Linked DNA regions of Homo sapiens: region 1 is reported to be linked to region 2. Evidence: microRNA targets listed by miRTarBase, many of them from high-throughput screens and not tested one by one. Region 2 holds a microRNA gene; the other region holds the end of a gene's coding sequence.

Region 1 (5,382 bases), not on the chromosome of region 2:
AAGCTCACTATAACCTCAAACTCCTGGGTTCAAGCAATCCTCCCACCTCAGCCCCCGAAGTAACTAGAACTACAGGTACACACATGGCTAAATTTTTCTATTTTTTGTAGAGATAGATTCTTGCTGATGCCCAGGTCAGTCTTGAACTCCTGGCTTCAAGCCATCCATCCTCTACCCTCAGCCTCCCAAATTGCTGGGATTACAGGTGTGAGCCATAGCACCCAGCCTGTCTTTCCTAATACAGCTCTAAACTGATTTCAGTCCTAACTCACCATCTCTATCCCCTTTCAGCTCCTAAGTTTTCCATAAACACTATTTGGGTTTTTTTGTTATTTTTTAGACAGGGTCTCACTCTGTCACCCAGGCTGGAGTGCAGTAGTGTGATCATAGCTACTTCACCTCAACCTCCTGGGCTCAAGCAATCCTCCTGTCTCAGCCTCCAGAGTAGCTGGGACTCAGGCTCATGCCACCACAATCGGCTAGTTTTTCTCTTCGTAGACAGTTTTTTGCCATGTTGCCGAGGTTGGTCTCTGGCTCCTGGGCTCAAGCAATCTTTCCACCTCAGCCTCCCAAAGTGTTGGGAATTACAGGCCACTGCACTCAACCATAAACACTAATTTGTAATCTCCAGTAGGAAGACTACTGCGTGTTAGCCGGGCGCCGTGGCTCATGCCTGTAATCCCAGCACTTTGGGAGGCCAAGGCAGGCGGATCACGATGTCAGGAGTTCGAGACCAGTCTGGCCAACACAGTGAAACCCCCAACTCTACTAAAAATACAAAAAAAAAAAAAAAAAAAAAAATTAGCCAGGTGTGGTGGTGTGCGCCTGTAATCCCAGCTACTTGGAAGGCTGAGGCAGAATTGCATGAAGCTGGGAGGCGGAGGTTGCAGTGAGCCGAGATCGCACCACTGCACTCCAGCCTGGGTGACAGAACGAGACTCCATCTCAAAAAAAAAAAAAAAAAAAAAGACTACTGCATGTCTTTTCCCCCTGGGAAACTGTCATTACTTTTACATTCTTCTTCCTTGTGTCTCTTCAAGTGCAATTCCATGGTTCTCTGAACATTAAGTTCCATAAAATTTTAGTTCAAGGATAAAGCACTGATCGGAAACAAAAAAATCTAAAATACTATATTTAAAAAATTAAACCTTCCAACCTAAAAATGAATACCACTTAAAAATGTTAGTACAATCTGTTATTAAAATTCCTGTGCTCACTTCAGCAGCACATACTAAAATTGGAACACAGACCAAGAGTGGTGGCTCACGCCTGTAATCCCAGCACTTTCAGAGGCCAAGGCAGGAGTAACGCTTGAGCCCAGGAGTTCGAGACCAGCCTGGGCAACATAGTGAGATCCTGTCTCTACAAAAAATAAAAAATTAACTGGGAATGGTGGTGCACACCTGTAGTCCCAGGTACTTGGTAGGCTGAGGTGGGAGGATCCCTTGAACCCAGGAGGTCGAGGCTGCAGTCAGATTGTTTGTGCCACTGCACTCCAGCCTGGGTGACAGACTAAGACCCTGTCTCCGAGAAAAAAAAAAAAAAAAAAAAAGATTAAAATGGCCCCTGCACAAGGATGACATGCAAATTCATCAAGCATTCCATATAAGAAAAATTCCTTTCACATACTATGATCAGTAGCGCTTAACTGAAATTACTGAAAATTACTTTCCCCTCAAGCATTCATTATACCCCCATTACTACCCCTCCTATAGTAGAGCTTCAAGCCAATACTAGCCTTTTCTGTAAGCAACATGAATATTGTTCAGATTTTCCAGGTACAAATCAGTAGACAAAACTTAATTTGTATAAAGGATTTTAGTGCATACAAACTGTCATCAAATAAGGTGCTTTTTAACCAGGTTAAATTTTATGATCATCCCTTTAATTCACTATTTACCAACCTCTTTCCTGCCAGGGCACACAGGAAATGAAACATTTTGCTGGATAAGCCACAGATGAAGGTACTAGTGGTGGAACTGGCTCATGGATACAGATTGCTGTGCAAAGCTCTATGCATTTACTGTTTTAATAATTACTCCAATAAAAGGATTTTTAAAAAGAGATCTTTTAACACATCCACTTACACAAGTGAGTTATATACACACAAAAACTAACTGGAAATACTTCTTCACATTTTCACTGTAACCATTTACTTGTCAAGGGAAGGCAAAATGAATATTCAAAGTCAAGGCTAAAGCTACAGTGTTAAACTCAAAGAAGGATGCAATTTAAGTGCTCTCTTGTATAAAGCATCAGAAAGTTAATACAAGTACTAGTCTTAAGCAGTCACACAAGTCTAAGCCACATTTATTTGCACATGTATAGTAATGGCCAACAGATACTCCAAGTTCATACAAATTTGTAAAACAACAAAGTTAATAATCACTTGGTACACTTGTGTGTTATCTTGCTTACATATTAAAACCTAGATGAACTTCCTTCATTTTGTGGACTTCCATACAATACTTCCTTAAACAAAATTCTTGAAAACACATATCAGCATGTTTAAGTTAGAGCCAACACAAAGTTAAGACAAGACACAAACTCAAAAACCAAGTTTGAAAGATACTTTTCTACCTCCCTCCCCTAGAAAGAAGTGATTTTCTTTAACAGATGTATGTTATATCACACAAGTAACCATGAAGACAAAAGAATGACGCTCCCATCATCAGGAAGAAAATGCCAACCAGATCATACTGTTTAGTTATCTACCGAACATATGGTTAAAATATGAGAAACGGGGGAAAATGCTTAGATTAAAATAACAAGGGAGAATAGAAAATAGCAAATGATTTTAAAGAGAACTGTTCCCCCTCAAAGCTGCAAAGCTCTGACTCTGACAACTAAAAACTGTCCAAGGCAAATAAAAACGAGGAAACCTTCAAAAACATTCTAATCACGTGCAGTATCTAGTGTTAAAAGCTGAAAATGATAAAGAGGATATTTATTATACAAGTGTCAACGAGGACATCCCAAAAATAATGAAATAAACACACATTTATTTCTACAAAAGCAATGTATGATACAGAATTAGAAGGGAACAGACTTAAAGATTTGCCTATTAAAATATACAGATTCTTACTGAAGAGTATAGGATATTTAAAAAAGATGACAAGGGATGTTAATCTTTTTTTATTATTATCATTTTTACATATTTTGGAACCTCACATAATTTTGATAAATAACTCTTACAAAATTATGCAAAAAGTACAAGAATGTCTGGTAAACAAACAGTCTGTATTTTCCAAAAAGATTTTTTACAACATGCAATTCTTAAGGCAGCATCCTCTTTACAAGGAAAGGTAATCCTTTTTTATCAAGAAATCTTCTGCTGCAAAGAATGGCTAAGAAAGCCTGGCTTCTTCCATTAACGCCTTTTGTCTTTCCTGTCTGATTTTCGGTCTCTTTCACTTCTTGAAGATCTTTTGCCTGATCGACTACTCTCTGATATAGACCTCTTTCTGTCGGACCGGGAATTCTTATCCTTTGATCCTTTTGTATCTCTACTACTACCACCTTTTGAAGATTTGTGACTTCTTTCTAGTCCTGAAGTATCCCTTCTCTTCCGATCCACGCTCCTTCTGTGCTTTCTATCTCTATTATGTCCCCGGCCCCTACTCCGACTTCTACTCTCACTACTACTACTAGTGCTACTGCTACTATCTCTGCTGCTGCTGCCACTTGTACTGGAGCTGCTACTGGAACTACTGCGACTGCTACTACTTCCACTGCTGGAACTACTTCCACTGCTGCTACTGGTTGAACTGCTACTAGAACTGCTACTGCTACTGCTTCGACTTCTACTCTTGCTTGTTTTATTTCTAGCTCGACCTCTACTTCTGCTCCTAGTTTTGGTTTTGCTCTTGCTCTCTGGATGTACTGTCAAGACTGGCTCTACTGGTACCTCAGTGAGTTTTACAGACTCTACAGGAAAATCCTTCCTCTCAGGTAGTAAATGCCCTTGCTCCTGAGTAACTTGGGGTGTTGGCTGTAAAACAGCTAATGACAAATCCTCAGGCTGAGAGGGAGGCTGGGACTGGAGTACTGGTTGGGACTGGGATTGAAGCTGAAGCTGGGGCTGAGACTGAGGCTGAGGTTGAGCCACAGGCTCAGGTTGGGGCTCAGATTCTTTTTCTTCTTTTTCCTCAGACTCCTTTTCCATGTCTAAAGCACTGACATTCTCTTTCCCAGGAGAAAGGGTTTTACATTCTTTATCTGGCTCAATTTCAAATTCCATTTCTGGTTCCAATTCTTTGCTAGCTTCATTTTCTGAAGGTTCTACACTTTCAACTCGATTAGTTTCCATTACCTCCTGGTCAGCAATTACATGTTTGACATTCTCAACCATCTCTAGCACATCCATAACTTCTTCAGGCTGACTATCCTGCTGCTTCTCACTTTCCCTTACCTCAGTTTCCTCCTCCATCTTAACCTCCATTTCCTGTTTTTGTTCTTCCTCCTCCTGTTCTTTCTCTGCATCACTATGAACAATCGCTATTTCCTTTTCCTCTTCCTCTCCTGCTTCCTCTATTTCTACATCATTGTGCTGATTACCTGTCTCCTCCAACTCTTCCTCTCGCTGAGCCACCTTACCCTCTTCTTGTTCCGCCTTCTGTTCTTCATTACGCACCACCTGATGCTCTTTTTCCTTCATTGATTGTCTTCTAGGCCTAGCCTCCATTTTATTTATTTGTTCTGCAAATTCGATGCGTCTACCTTCAAATAAAGCTAAAGAATAAAAATTTACATGTGTAAAATTTACCGATTAAGAAAATTCAAAGCCATAATTTTATAACTGGTCACAAATTGTCATTAAGCTTCATCTGAATTTGTTTTTGTAAAGTTATGACAAAAGATTATGGCAATTAAGTAACCACAAACTGACATAAAATTATAAAAGCAAAGATCCATGGGAAATCTACATACTAGAAATTGTGGCAGACAGAACTACACATTTTCTAACTGATGAAGAAAACAGATCAATCTTTATGTCTGATGAAAAATAAAACTTCTGTAAAACAGAACCAGTTTTGGCATAAAATCATATATATTAATTTTTCTGATCCCAAAGAGATAAATCATCATCTTAGCAGTGTCTATCCTTCCATGTGTTTTCCATCTAGAAACTGAGTTGGTTTTCACATTTGTCTTATTAGCATTTTATCAGAACAATAATAGCATGCAAAAAAAAGTAATTTTACACAAATGCTTAAGGAATACAGATGCATAAGCACTGTCTATAACTTTCACATTAAACTCCATCATGATACAAATATTCCTATACTACAAACTCACCAGCATCTCAGAATGTATCTTTTTTTTTTTTTTTGAGATGGAGTCTAGCTCTGTTGCCCAGGCTGGAGTTCAGTGGCGTAATCT
Region 2 (5,382 bases):
GATATGAATGAGTTTCGTGTGCTGTGTCTCAGGGCTTCATCATGGGCATAGGAAGAGATGGACAGGTCCATGCCATCAAGTCAAGTGACCTCTGTGCCGGGATCTGTCCTGGGTGTTGAGGTCACATCAGTGAGCCCCACACATGGTCCCTGCCTTTCTGGGCCTCCTGTGCAGTTTGGGAGACAGTACACAAATAACATGCCCAGAAGCTGTGTGGGCCTCAGCATCCTTGCCTGTAAAGTGGGGCTCCAGTGCCTCACTTGGGATCAGGCTGAGTCGGTGAGTGAGTGGCTGCCATCAGTGGAAGATTGGCTCAGGGGCAGGCGCTGCCCAGAAGGAGATGGGACAAACCGGGGAAACAACTAGGCAGGTGCTTCCGCCCTTGGCACAGAGGTGCCCCAGGCTGGCGGCTGTCTAGGGGGTGGGAACCTGCCTGGGCGTGTACATGAGTTGCCAGCATCTGCATCAGCAGGCAGGCATTCTTGGTGCCGACTTTGGCAGGGTATCTGTCAGCTCTGGGACCCTGGGTTGCCGCTCACTGTTGGCTTGGAGAGGTCACTGCTCTGCCTCCTTCTCTGGACCATTGTGGCTGCCCTGTTTCAATTTGCCCTGCTTTTTGGCTTTCTCGGTCTTTTGAGTCTTGCTTTGTCCTGCCCATAACCCCCTCCAAAGGGAGTCTCTGCCTGGGTACTCTCGCAGGCAGCCCAGTTAACACAGTGCCCCAGAGTGGAGTTAGTTCTAGGTGTGTTGGTTCCAGGGCCGTAGTTACTAAGGTGAGGAGCTGGGATTCCAGCTGGGGCTGTCTGTAAGAAGAATCCCAGAGGGGCTCACCCCACACTTGGAGTGTCCAAGCCCAGGCATTCAAGCTGCCGTTCAGCCCAAGCTCAGAACCAGCCTCCCCTCTGGCAGGGCCAGGGTGGGGCAGGGGGCAGGTGCGATGAGGTGCCTAGGGACCTAGAGCAGGGAGGTCCTTGGAAGCACAAGTGTGTTGACAATGGAACTGAAGCCAAACCTCAGCATCAGGGCCCTTGAACGTGACCTCAGTGGAGAGGGCATGGGCTTAGGAGTCCCAGGGCTCGAACTAGAATTCTTCCTGGTCCTTGGCTCTCCACGTTTCCCCCAGCACGGTCTGCAGACCAGAGGCAACAAATGCCTCTTAAAATGTCCTGACACTGTGGGGTGGGGCAGGAGGGGACAGAGCCACATTTGGGAAATTGTCTGATCACCAAGGGGGTGGTCTGGAGTGAGGAAACTGGAGTGAGAGTTTAGCAATCACAGCAAGATTTGGGGAAATGTCGCAGGGTCTGGAATTCAGATTAGGCAATTCCGATCAGTCACGGGCCAGGCTGTTGGCAAAGCTTCCCTCAGACCCGGTCAGCGCAGTCTCTCAGGCTCCGTGCCACTGCATCTGAGGGCCCAGCTTCGAGGATGTGCTCAGGAAATAGTTGCCAACAAGTGAGTTGTGGAGGCCTGAGTAGGATGGGGATCTCACTTTACAAGAAAATAATAGTGAGGTACAGGATGGAGGTGGAGCCAGGATACAGCCTGGATCTGCGTCCAGTGCTCTCACCCCAACCCCCAGAAGGGCTAACCTCATATAGCCTCGGAGCCCTGTGGACTGTGGGCTGCAGGTTTGGACAGCAGTGTCTTAGGCAGGTCCTCGGTGTACAGTCTACCTGGAGCTTGGGGGTCCAAGCAGCAAGGCCAGTCTGGCCCTGTGCCCTCTCTGCCTAAGCCCAAAAGCAGGGACCTTGCTAGCTCTAATCTCGTCAGTTTGTGGCTTCTCTGCCTCTTTTCCAGAGGAGGAGTGAGCAAGAGAGAGCCATGTAGCCGGACACTCATTTACAATTTCACTGAAGCATGAAATCGTTTCCTACCTTTACCAGATTATTACCTAAGTAGAAAATTGACTTGGAGTGGGAGGCGGCAGGAGAGTTACATACTTTTGAAAATTAAAAATGAAAAACTTTGTTGTTTAGGGTTTTTTGTTTTTCTTGGCCCCATTACCAGCAGGAAGACAGCAGCACAGGCTTTTAGGGGGTCAAGATACTGGAATGCAGTTTGCTTTTTGGCCATGTTTTCTTTTCTTTCTTTTTTTTTTTTTTTTCAGGCTTAATTCACTTTATTTTTCTTGTATAAAAACCCTGTTGTAGCCACAGCTGGAGCGTAGGTCCTCTGCATGGAGACTCTGGTGAGGGTCTTGACAAGGTGGTCAGTGAATTCCTGATCGGGAGACTTGGTGAATACAGTCTCCTTCCACAGGTCAGTGGGGCAGGTAGCTGTGGTCTTCGAGATGGCCTCAAGGGTGTTGGCCATGTTTTCTCTAGGTATATGAGTTTTGCCGCCTGTTGGCTGAGCCTTGAGTTCAAAGTACTGAACTGGGGCCTCGGGTCATGCCATTCACTGGACATTAATGACAGTGCTTTAGAATTCCCCTAGATTGAGCAAGTAGTGAACCTGTTTCTTGGCCATCACTCCATCACTCTGAGCGCCAGGTCCCCAGGCCTGGTGGAGAAGGGCAGGCAAGGGAGGCAGGGGAGGCGCTGCGTTGGCCCAGGATCCTGGCGTCAGCTGGGGGACCTGGGAAGCTCTGGCTTCGTGTTTCTCTGCTTTGCTGAGGCAAATCTGGATCACTTCCGTTAGGGTTCGGCATGTCCTGCTGTCATCTTGGGCCTCTGCGTTGGTCTCGAGGGTGAGTCACTGGCGGCCCCACCTCCAAGCCATCACTTGCCCCAGCTAGGTAAAGAGCCCTGTGGAGACACCTGGATTCAGAGAACATGTCTCCACTGAGCACTTGGGCCTTGATGGCGGCTCTTGTTCCAAGGCAAGGGGGATGTCTAGCCAGTACCGCTTGGAGCCCGGCCCAGGGCAGAGCCTGCTGGGAGCAGGGAAGTGGGTACGTGAGGCTCTGCTTGGGCGTCCACAGCAAACCCTGCAGGGATTAGTCACCTTGAACAGAGATCAGGCTCCAGAGCCGGACAGCCCATGTGAGAATCCTGGCTGTGGCAGTTTGGGTAGTTTCTTGGCCTCTCTGAGCTGTGGCTTCCCTAGCTCTAAAATGGGACTTACAAGAGAAGCTTCTGTAGAGGACTGTCATGAGAGTGGAATGTGGTCAAAGGCACCAGTTACTTAGCACTGCCCGGACACCAGCCTCAGTCAGGAACACCGTTTGCATGTTCTCTTAACCATGGGAGGCAGCCTCAACTGGAGCTTGCCTAGGGGGTGGCTCATCTGCAGGCCAGAGATGTTTGTCCCAGAGCTGGCTCATACCCTGAGAACAAAACCAGTTTCTGCAGGGCAGGGTGAGACCCAGCCACTCTTGCCTGTGTTGTCCTTGGCAACGTGGTTGCGGGAGAGGGGCTTGGTTTAGCAGAGGTGAGCAGAGAGTGGGTGGGAGGGGACAAGGGGGCTTGTGCTGAAGAGTGAGCCCTGAGAGGGCAGATGGGCAGGAGGGGCTCCTCTAACCTGTGGGCTTGTTCCCCCACAAGCTGACGCACCATGTCGGTCAGTGTCCATGAGACCCGCAAGTCGCGGAGCAGCACGGGGTCCATGAACGTCACCCTCTTCCACAAGGCCTCCCACCCGGACTGTGTGCTGGCCCACCTCAACACGCTTCGCAAGCACTGCATGTTCACCGACGTCACACTCTGGGCGGGCGACCGTGCCTTCCCCTGTCACCGTGCCGTGCTGGCCGCCTCTAGCCGCTATTTTGAGGCCATGTTCAGCCATGGCCTTCGGGAGAGCCGGGATGACACTGTCAACTTCCAGGACAACCTGCACCCGGAGGTGCTGGAGCTGCTGCTGGACTTTGCCTACTCCTCACGCATCGCCATCAACGAGGAGAACGCTGAGTCACTGCTGGAGGCAGGCGACATGCTGCAGTTCCACGATGTGCGGGATGCTGCCGCCGAGTTCCTGGAGAAGAACCTTTTCCCCTCCAACTGCCTGGGCATGATGCTGCTCTCGGACGCCCACCAGTGCCGCCGGCTGTATGAGTTCTCCTGGCGCATGTGCCTGGTGCACTTTGAGACGGTGAGGCAGAGCGAGGACTTCAACAGCCTGTCCAAGGACACACTGCTGGACCTCATCTCGAGTGATGAGCTGGAGACCGAGGACGAGCGGGTGGTCTTCGAGGCCATCCTCCAGTGGGTGAAGCACGACCTGGAGCCACGGAAGGTCCACTTGCCCGAGCTCCTCCGCAGCGTGCGTCTGGCCTTGCTGCCGTCCGACTGCCTGCAGGAGGCCGTCTCCAGCGAGGCCCTCCTCATGGCAGACGAGCGCACCAAGCTTATCATGGATGAGGCCCTGCGCTGCAAGACCAGGATCCTGCAGAATGATGGCGTGGTCACCAGCCCCTGTGCCCGGCCACGCAAGGCGGGCCACACGCTACTCATCCTGGGGGGCCAGACCTTCATGTGTGACAAGATCTACCAGGTGGACCACAAGGCCAAGGAGATCATCCCCAAGGCCGACCTGCCCAGCCCCCGGAAGGAGTTCAGCGCCTCAGCGATCGGCTGCAAGGTCTATGTGACGGGGGGCAGGGGCTCCGAGAACGGGGTCTCCAAGGATGTCTGGGTGTACGACACCGTACATGAGGAATGGTCCAAGGCGGCGCCCATGCTGATTGCCCGCTTTGGCCATGGCTCAGCTGAGCTGGAGAACTGCCTCTATGTGGTGGGGGGACACACATCCCTGGCAGGGGTCTTCCCGGCCTCGCCTTCTGTCTCCCTGAAACAAGTGGAGAAATACGACCCTGGGGCCAACAAGTGGATGATGGTGGCCCCCTTGCGGGATGGCGTCAGCAATGCCGCAGTGGTGAGTGCCAAGCTGAAGCTCTTTGTTTTCGGAGGAACCAGCATCCACCGGGACATGGTGTCCAAGGTCCAGTGCTATGACCCCTCGGAGAACAGGTGGACGATCAAGGCCGAGTGCCCCCAGCCTTGGCGGTACACAGCCGCTGCCGTCCTGGGCAGCCAGATCTTCATCATGGGAGGTGACACGGAATTCACAGCCGCCTCGGCCTACCGCTTTGACTGTGAGACCAACCAGTGGACGCGGATTGGGGACATGACTGCCAAGCGCATGTCCTGCCATGCCCTGGCTTCCGGCAACAAGCTCTATGTGGTCGGGGGCTACTTTGGGACCCAGAGGTGTAAGACTCTGGACTGCTATGACCCCACTTCAGATACATGGAACTGCATCACCACAGTGCCCTACTCACTTATCCCCACGGCCTTTGTCAGCACCTGGAAGCACCTGCCCGCGTGAGGAGCACCTGCTGAGCCCAGCCAGGTGAGTCCCTGGCAGCCCACGGCCACTCTGGGTCCGGAAAGGTCATGGGGGAATGCAGTCCCACCTCTTCCCACTGGGTGAAGGTCACCG

What was found. The annotated mature microRNA hsa-miR-1276 reads UAAAGAGCCCUGUGGAGACA and lies in region 2 at 2,742-2,761, shown strand. An mRNA with a match to its seed (bases 2 to 7 or 8) in the 3' UTR can be bound and repressed. Matches are read on the target gene's strand: a 7mer-m8 pairs with bases 2 to 8, a 7mer-A1 pairs with bases 2 to 7 and ends in A, and an 8mer does both.
Region 1: miRTarBase lists PNN as a target of hsa-miR-1276. Seed matches in the 3' UTR shown: 7mer-A1 at 2,936-2,942 and 7mer-A1 at 2,799-2,805.

Annotation. Positions count from the first base shown.
Region 1 is chr14:39,179,852-39,185,233 of GRCh38, reverse strand. PNN (pinin, desmosome associated protein) reads right to left here. Exons shown (of 9, transcript NM_002687.4): 9 at 2,014-4,731. The coding sequence ends at 3,371. Among named protein-coding and RNA genes, the nearest start is that of PNN-AS1, 6.7 kb to the right of the region's middle.
Region 2 is chr15:85,767,927-85,773,308 of GRCh38, reverse strand. It overlaps MIR1276 (microRNA 1276), which reads left to right and starts at 2,731; the gene lies at 2,731-2,813. It overlaps KLHL25 (kelch like family member 25), which reads left to right. Exons shown (of 3, transcript NM_022480.4): 2 at 3,489-5,292. The coding sequence starts at 3,499. The coding sequence ends at 5,268. RefSeq lists enhancers at 2,427-3,199, 3,200-3,974, 3,975-4,748, 4,749-5,382.